2 separate regions of the Homo sapiens genome follow, and region 2 is linked to region 1. Evidence: fine-mapped expression QTL. A gene starts in region 1. The other region holds a variant in brackets. All regions are shown on one strand. Distances are from middle to middle.

What was found. PIP is the estimated chance that this variant, and not a neighbour inherited with it, causes the effect.
Region 2: its variant is the best candidate, but not a certain one, in a credible set for the expression of HTT in whole blood (INTERVAL, PIP 0.52).

What each region holds. Positions count from the first base shown.
Region 1 is chr4:3,072,399-3,076,780 of GRCh38, forward strand. HTT (huntingtin) reads left to right here and starts at 2,283. Exons shown (of 67, transcript NM_001388492.1): 1 at 2,283-2,690. The coding sequence starts at 2,428. It also overlaps HTT-AS. RefSeq lists silencers at 1,339-1,958, 2,109-2,548, 2,659-2,728 and enhancers at 2,889-3,118, 3,129-3,178.
Region 2 is chr4:3,185,331-3,189,712 of GRCh38, forward strand. It overlaps HTT (huntingtin), which reads left to right. Exons shown (of 67, transcript NM_001388492.1): 38 at 1,267-1,389; 39 at 2,321-2,556; 40 at 3,621-3,763. Among named protein-coding and RNA genes, the nearest start is that of MSANTD1, 62 kb to the right of the region's middle. The variant G/A (reference allele first, on the strand shown) is at 1,951.

The DNA.
Region 1 (4,382 bases):
CCTTTTGCGACCTAGTCATGGGGTGACATTCCATCACCTTTGCCCATTGGTTAGAAGCAGGCCACCAGGTACAGCCCAAGCTCACGGGGAGGGGTCATACAAGGGTGTCAATACCAGGAGGTGAGGGGTGCTGGGGCCATCTTATGAGTCTGCCCACTGAGGTAACTAACAACCTTGAGGCCTGACACAGTGGACAAAGGCCCTTATTAACAGCAGAGAACTGGGAACTTTATTTATTTATTTATTTTTGAGACAGAGTCTCACTCTTGTCACCCAGGCTGGAGTGCAATGGCATGATCTTGGCTCACTGCAACCTCCACCTCCCAGGTTCAAGCAATTCTGCCTCAGCCTCCGGAATAGCTGGGACTACAGGCATGCACCACTACACCCGGCTAATTTTTGTATTTTTAGTAGAGACAGGGTTTCGCCATGTTGGCCAGGCTGGTCTCGAACTCCTGACCTCTGGTGATCTGCCTGCCTTGGCCTCCCAAAGTGCTGGGATTACAGGCGTGAGCCACCGCACCTCGCTGGAACTTAATTTTTTTAGAGACAGTGTCGCTCTATCACCCAAGCTGGAGTGCAGTGGTGCAATCCTAGCTCACTTGCAGCCTCAAATTCCTGGGTTCAGGTGATCCTCCCACATCAGCCTCCCAAGAACTGGGAACTAACAGCTGTTTCTCTGCTGTCCTTCTCAAGAAAAGGGAGGCTACTGCTACCCCACTGGGGACAATGCTGGGTTTCCCTTTAGGACAGGCTCTGAGACAAGGCGGAGGTGCTGTTTGTGGCCACAGAGCAGGGGACTCTGGGTTGCAGGTGTGGCCTGGCTAAAGTAGGCTTTACTGGGCTCCTCTCTGCCTGCATCACCCCCCGGCTGGGCGGTTGTCTCTGAGGCCAACCTTACTCCCTGCTGGGCAGGCTGGACAGCTGCCCTCTCCGTTTGCCCCTCTACCACCCAAAAGGCAGGAGGCTCTGGAGACCAGGACCCTGCCCGCCACGGCCTGTGTCCCAGGCGTGAGGGGGTGCCCCACAGACCTCTGCTGAGCTGCTGCTGAATGACGCCCCTTGGGGGTCCTGCCGGAAGGTCAGAGCAGGGGTGCACTCCCATAAAGAAACGCCCCCAGGTCGGGACTCATTCCTGTGGGCGGCATCTTGTGGCCATAGCTGCTTCTCGCTGCACTAATCACAGTGCCTCTGTGGGCAGCAGGCGCTGACCACCCAGGCCTGCCCCAGACCCTCTCCTCCCTTCCGGGGCGCTGCGCTGGGACCGATGGGGGGCGCCAGGCCTGTGGACACCGCCCTGCAGGGGCCTCTCCAGCTCACTGGGGGTGGGGTGGGGGTCACACTTGGGGTCCTCAGGTCGTGCCGACCACGCGCATTCTCTGCGCTCTGCGCAGGAGCTCGCCCACCCTCTCCCCGTGCAGAGAGCCCCGCAGCTGGCTCCCCGCAGGGCTGTCCGGGTGAGTATGGCTCTGGCCACGGGCCAGTGTGGCGGGAGGGCAAACCCCAAGGCCACCTCGGCTCAGAGTCCACGGCCGGCTGTCGCCCCGCTCCAGGCGTCGGCGGGGGATCCTTTCCGCATGGGCCTGCGCCCGCGCTCGGCGCCCCCTCCACGGCCCCGCCCCGTCCATGGCCCCGTCCTTCATGGGCGAGCCCCTCCATGGCCCTGCCCCTCCGCGCCCCACCCCTCCCTCGCCCCACCTCTCACCTTCCTGCCCCGCCCCCAGCCTCCCCACCCCTCACCGGCCAGTCCCCTCCCCTATCCCGCTCCGCCCCTCAGCCGCCCCGCCCCTCAGCCGGCCTGCCTAATGTCCCCGTCCCCAGCATCGCCCCGCCCCGCCCCCGTCTCGCCCCGCCCCTCAGGCGGCCTCCCTGCTGTGCCCCGCCCCGGCCTCGCCACGCCCCTACCTCACCACGCCCCCCGCATCGCCACGCCCCCCGCATCGCCACGCCTCCCTTACCATGCAGTCCCGCCCCGTCCCTTCCTCGTCCCGCCTCGCCGCGACACTTCACACACAGCTTCGCCTCACCCCATTACAGTCTCACCACGCCCCGTCCCCTCTCCGTTGAGCCCCGCGCCTTCGCCCGGGTGGGGCGCTGCGCTGTCAGCGGCCTTGCTGTGTGAGGCAGAACCTGCGGGGGCAGGGGCGGGCTGGTTCCCTGGCCAGCCATTGGCAGAGTCCGCAGGCTAGGGCTGTCAATCATGCTGGCCGGCGTGGCCCCGCCTCCGCCGGCGCGGCCCCGCCTCCGCCGGCGCAGCGTCTGGGACGCAAGGCGCCGTGGGGGCTGCCGGGACGGGTCCAAGATGGACGGCCGCTCAGGTTCTGCTTTTACCTGCGGCCCAGAGCCCCATTCATTGCCCCGGTGCTGAGCGGCGCCGCGAGTCGGCCCGAGGCCTCCGGGGACTGCCGTGCCGGGCGGGAGACCGCCATGGCGACCCTGGAAAAGCTGATGAAGGCCTTCGAGTCCCTCAAGTCCTTCCAGCAGCAGCAGCAGCAGCAGCAGCAGCAGCAGCAGCAGCAGCAGCAGCAGCAGCAGCAACAGCCGCCACCGCCGCCGCCGCCGCCGCCGCCTCCTCAGCTTCCTCAGCCGCCGCCGCAGGCACAGCCGCTGCTGCCTCAGCCGCAGCCGCCCCCGCCGCCGCCCCCGCCGCCACCCGGCCCGGCTGTGGCTGAGGAGCCGCTGCACCGACCGTGAGTTTGGGCCCGCTGCAGCTCCCTGTCCCGGCGGGTCCCAGGCTACGGCGGGGATGGCGGTAACCCTGCAGCCTGCGGGCCGGCGACACGAACCCCCGGCCCCGCAGAGACAGAGTGACCCAGCAACCCAGAGCCCATGAGGGACACCCGCCCCCTCCTGGGGCGAGGCCTTCCCCCACTTCAGCCCCGCTCCCTCACTTGGGTCTTCCCTTGTCCTCTCGCGAGGGGAGGCAGAGCCTTGTTGGGGCCTGTCCTGAATTCACCGAGGGGAGTCACGGCCTCAGCCCTCTCGCCCTTCGCAGGATGCGAAGAGTTGGGGCGAGAACTTGTTTCTTTTTATTTGCGAGAAACCAGGGCGGGGGTTCTTTTAACTGCGTTGTGAAGAGAACTTGGAGGAGCCGAGATTTGCTCAGTGCCACTTCCCTCTTCTAGTCTGAGAGGGAAGAGGGCTGGGGGCGCGGGACACTTCGAGAGGAGGCGGGGTTTGGAGCTGGAGAGATGTGGGGGCAGTGGATGACATAATGCTTTTAGGACGCCTCGGCGGGAGTGGCGGGGCAGGGGGGGGGCGGGGAGTGAGGGCGCGTCCAATGGGAGATTTCTTTTCCTAGTGGCACTTAAAACAGCCTGAGATTTGAGGCTCTTCCTACATTGTCAGGACATTTCATTTAGTTCATGATCACGGTGGTAGTAACACGATTTTAAGCACCACCTAAGAGATCTGCTCATCTAAGCCTAAGTTGGTCTGCAGGCGTTTGAATGAGTTGTGGTTGCCAAGTAAAGTGGTGAACTTACGTGGTGATTAATGAAATTATCTTAAATATTAGGAAGAGTTGATTGAAGTTTTTTGCCTATGTGTGTTGGGAATAAAACCAACACGTTGCTGATGGGGAGGTTAATTGCCGAGGGATGAATGAGGTGTACATTTTACCAGTATTCCAGTCAGGCTTGCCAGAATACGGGGGGTCCGCAGACTCCGTGGGCATCTCAGATGTGCCAGTGAAAGGGTTTCTGTTTGCTTCATTGCTGACAGCTTGTTACTTTTTGGAAGCTAGGGGTTTCTGTTGCTTGTTCTTGGGGAGAATTTTTGAAACAGGAAAAGAGAGACCATTAAAACATCTAGCGGAACCCCAGGACTTTCCCTGGAAGTCTGTGTGTCGAGTGTACAGTAGGAGTTAGGAAGTACTCTGGTGCAGTTCAGGCCTTTCTCTTACCTCTCAGTATTCTATTTCCGATCTGGATGTGTCCCAGATGGCATTTGGTAAGAATATCTCTGTTAAGACTGATTAATTTTTAGTAATATTTCTTGTTCTTTGTTTCTGTTATGATCCTTGTCTCGTCTTCAAAGTTTAATTAGAAAATGATTCGGAGAGCAGTGTTAGCTTATTTGTTGGAATAAAATTTAGGAATAAATTATTCTAAAGGATGGAAAAACTTTTTGGATATTTGGAGAAATTTTAAAACAATTTGGCTTATCTCTTCAGTAAGTAATTTCTCATCCAGAAATTTACTGTAGTGCTTTTCTAGGAGGTAGGTGTCATAAAAGTTCACACATTGCATGTATCTTGTGTAAACACTAAACAGGGCTCCTGATGGGAAGGAAGACCTTTCTGCTGGGCTGCTTCAGACACTTGATCATTCTAAAAATATGCCTTCTCTTTCTTATGCTGATTTGACAGAACCTGCATTTGC
Region 2 (4,382 bases), 110 kb after region 1:
CAGAGTTGCTGGGGAGGAGGCAGAGTTGGTGAGCACAGGCGAGGGTCCAGGATGCAGGAATCCTGGAGCTCAAGTCAGTTGTTCCCTTGTTGTAAGATGTGGCCAGTGTTGTGAGCTTCACATCTGTGCCTTGAAAAACACCACATCTGTTTGCAGAGTTGTTTACTATGTATACACACTCAGTAGAAACAAAAATTGGAAACAGTCAGTGCCCACCATCAATAAGTAATGGTTGAACACACTGTGGTATAAGCTTAGACTATTTTAGCTTGGGCTATTTTGCATGATTAAAAATGTTCTGGCCAGGTGTGGTGGCTCATGCCTGTAATCCCAGCACTTTGGGAGGCCAAGGCAGGCAGATTGCTTGAGCTCAGGAGTTTGAGACCAGCCTGGGCAACATGGTGAAACCCTGTCTCTACTAGAAATACAAAAAGTAGCTGGGTGTGGTGGTGTGCGCCTGTAGTCCTGGCTAACTCAGGAGGCTGAGGTGGGAGGATCACTTGAGCCCATTCGTGCGCCACTGCACTCCTGGGGCACAGAGTGAGACTCTGTTAGAAAGAGAGAGAGAGAAAGAAGAGAGAGGGAGGGAGGAAGGAAGGAAGGAAATAAATGGAAGAAATGGAAGGGAGGAAGGGGAGGGAGGAAGGAAGAAAGGAAGTTCAGCCAGTTGCCTTGGGAGTTCTCCATTGCACTGGGTTAAGTGAGAAGAGCAGAGACGTTTATGATTTTTCAAAACAACTAAAACAAAACCTCTGTGGGTGAGGGGGCAAGGATATGGCTATAGGAACATGGGGCAGATTAAGAAAGGGATATACACACACCACTTAGCATTTGTTACAACTGTTGTGGGAGGGATGGAGTGCAGAAAAAGAAAAAAAAAAGTGCACACCATCCCATGTATGTGTATACAAAGGGACGCTTGGAAGACTGGTCCCCAAAATGTTGGTAATGATTGTGTCAGGGTGCTGCAGTGCTAGTTGATTTTTTTTCACACTTTTGTATATTTGAGTCTTTTACAGAAAGCATTTATTATTTATGTAATAAAAATCTAAATGACAAGATTTCTGTTATGGGAAAAATGTAGCTATACAGTGTTGTTGTAAAAATGTTTGCTTGGTTCACCACTGAACTTAAAATGCTTTTAAATGAGGGAAGGTGACGATGAGATGATTATGATGATTTGCCCTTGAGTTACATAGCTGGTGTACAGGAAGCTGTCGTTTCTTTTGGCTTACGTAGAAATGTTTGTGGTGTCTAATTCCACAGATGCACATTGACTCTCATGAAGCCCTTGGAGTGTTAAATACATTATTTGAGATTTTGGCCCCTTCCTCCCTCCGTCCGGTAGACATGCTTTTACGGAGTATGTTCGTCACTCCAAACACAATGGTGAGTCTCTCGCCTGGCTCAGCAGATGAATCTGGACGGCTTGTTCAGGCTCTGATTACTGGGACCACCCCCAGAATGTCTGAGTCAGTCAGTTTGGGTAGGGCTTCTTGAGAGTTTGCTTTTTTTTTTTTTTTTTTTTTTGGTGTGGGGGTGGTGCGGAACAGAGTCTCACTCTGTCGCCCAGGCTGGAGTACAGTGTCATGATCTCGGCTCACTGCAAGCTCTGCCTTCCAGCTTCACACCATTCTCCTGCCTCAGCCTCCCGAGTTGCTGGGACTACAAGCGCCCACCACCACGCCCGGCTAATTTTTTTGTATTTTTAGTAGAGATGGGGTTTCACCGTGTTAGCCAGGATGGTCTTGATCTCCTGACCTCGTGACCCGCCCATCTCAGCCTCCCAAAGTGCTGGGATTACAGGCGTGAGCCACCGCACCCGGCCTTTTTATTTTTTTTGGAGATGGAGCCTTGCTCTGTCACCCAGGCTGGAGTACAGTGGCGCTACCTCGACTCACTGCAACCTCCGCCTCCCGGGTTCAAGCAATTTTCCTGCCTCAGCCTCCC[G/A]AGTAGCTGGGACTACAGGTGCGTGCCACTGTGCCCGGCTAATTTTTTGTATTTTTAGTAGAGACGGGGTTTCACTGTGTTAGCCAGGATGGTCGCGATCTCCTGACCTTGTGATCCGCCCGCCTCGGCCTCCCAAAGTGTTGGGATTACAGGTGGCTCTCGCACCAAGCCAAGAGTTTGCATTTTTAGCAAATTCCCAGGTGAAACTAATGCCTGCTTTTCTGGGAGCACACTTTGGGACTCAGTGATAGAGAGGTTTATTGGTAGGATAGTAAAATAGGAGTTATTTTCTTTCACAAAATTGGCAATTGGGGGAAATTTAATCTTCCTTTTTTCTTCAGCTGTGACTTATGTATTATGTTTATTTTAGGCGTCCGTGAGCACTGTTCAACTGTGGATATCGGGAATTCTGGCCATTTTGAGGGTTCTGATTTCCCAGTCAACTGAAGATATTGTTCTTTCTCGTATTCAGGAGCTCTCCTTCTCTCCGTATTTAATCTCCTGTACAGTAATTAATAGGTTAAGAGATGGGGACAGTACTTCAACGCTAGAAGAACACAGTGAAGGGAAACAAATAAAGAATTTGCCAGAAGAAACATTTTCAAGGTATGCTTTCTATCTGAGCCTATAACTAACCCATGCCTTTTGGGAAGTCACGTGATGTTTCACAGTCAGTAAGTCTGGAATAATACCTGGTCTTGCTTCACTTCTGAGTTGGGTAAAGAAGTCTGTATCAGTGTAATTTTCTAATCCGTCCTGCATTATCTATGGCTCTTGGTTCATACCTGTCTTGAAGTTCTGTCATGTTCTGTCTCTTGTCCTCAGTAGAGATGCTACAGCAGTGGCTCGCCTCAGGCAGGGCAGGGCAGTGGGGTGGCTGTCCTGGGGGCAGGCAGTAGGGGCACGCTGACGTCAGGGAAGTTGAAACCCAAGAGAAGCCAGTAAAAGTGAGTCTCAGATTGTCACCATGTGCTGGCAGTTTTACACGCTGTCAGTAATAAAAGTCTTCTCCCTGCAGGGCAGCCTGCCTCCAATAAATACGTGTAGTATCAAATCCTGTCTTCCCTCATAAATTGTTTGGAAGCTCCCCAAGGACAGTGATGAGGCACTCGTAAGTGCTTGCTGCCTAGATGGGTCCCTCTCCACCTTTGCTAGATTCTGAGCATTCACTGAGTTAGAGCTGCTTCTGCAAATGTGCTGCTTCTGCTAAGTGGCTGTGACTTCATGCAGCCTTCACTTGGTTTGTCATCAGTGGAGATGCCCTGTGTTGTCGAAGGAGATAAGCCCAGTAAGCCTGCTGGGCACCTTTTGGTTTGCAGGTTCAGCAGGCAGCCCATGGCTTTCCCTGTGTCGCATTGAAGCAGCTGGCTAAAATTGATGATACATTAAATTCCTGTGACAGATGATCAGCTTGTATTTGTGTAATGGTGTACAGTTCACAAAGCTTAAAAAAATGCTACCTGCCATTTCATCCTCAGTGAGGAAGGTGATACACAGAGAGACCAAGTGACTGTGTCCACGGCGACGGCGCTCTGCATTTCACTTTAGCGGTTAATGTACTCTACCTATATTTTTACTTTATATTTACCATATATCTTTTCATGTATACTTGGCGTAAGTGCTTTATAGTAGTCACCTAATTCACTGTCATCTTTTTTGTTTCTTGGAAGGTTTCTATTACAACTGGTTGGTATTCTTTTAGAAGACATTGTTACAAAACAGCTGAAGGTGGAAATGAGTGAGCAGCAACATACTTTCTATTGCCAGGAACTAGGCACACTGCTAATGTGTCTGATCCACATCTTCAAGTCTGGTAGGTGAATCACATTAGTCTTCCTGGAGTGTCTCGTTCCCCATTCTGCACTATACACTCTCAGAGTGTAGGAGCTGTGCTGCCCGGTAGAAACTCTGCCTTGCCCAGTGTGCCAGTTGAAAATATTTGTTGCTGTAAGAGTACACCTGATACCATGTGACCCAGCAGTTCCACTCTTGGGTATATACCCAAAAGAATGGAAAGCAGGGTGGTGAAAAGATATTTGCATGCCAGCATTCATAGCAGCATTATTCACGATAGCTAAAATGTGGAACCAACTGAAGTGTCCCTCGATGGATGAATGGATAAGCAAAATCTGGTGTATATTTACAGTGGAATATTATTCAGCCTTAAAAAAAGGACATTCTGACACATGCTACAACATGGGTGACCCTTAAGGACATTATGCTAAATGAAATAAGCCAGTCACAAAAGGACAAATACTATGTGATTCCACTTACATGAGGGACCTGGAGTAGTTAATTCATAGATATAGAAAGTAGAATGGTGGTTGCCAGGGGCTGCAGGGGAGGGGAGTTATTTTTACAAGATGAAGAGAGTTATTCTAGAAATGAATGGTGGTGATGGTTGTATAACATTATGAATGTACTTAATGCTA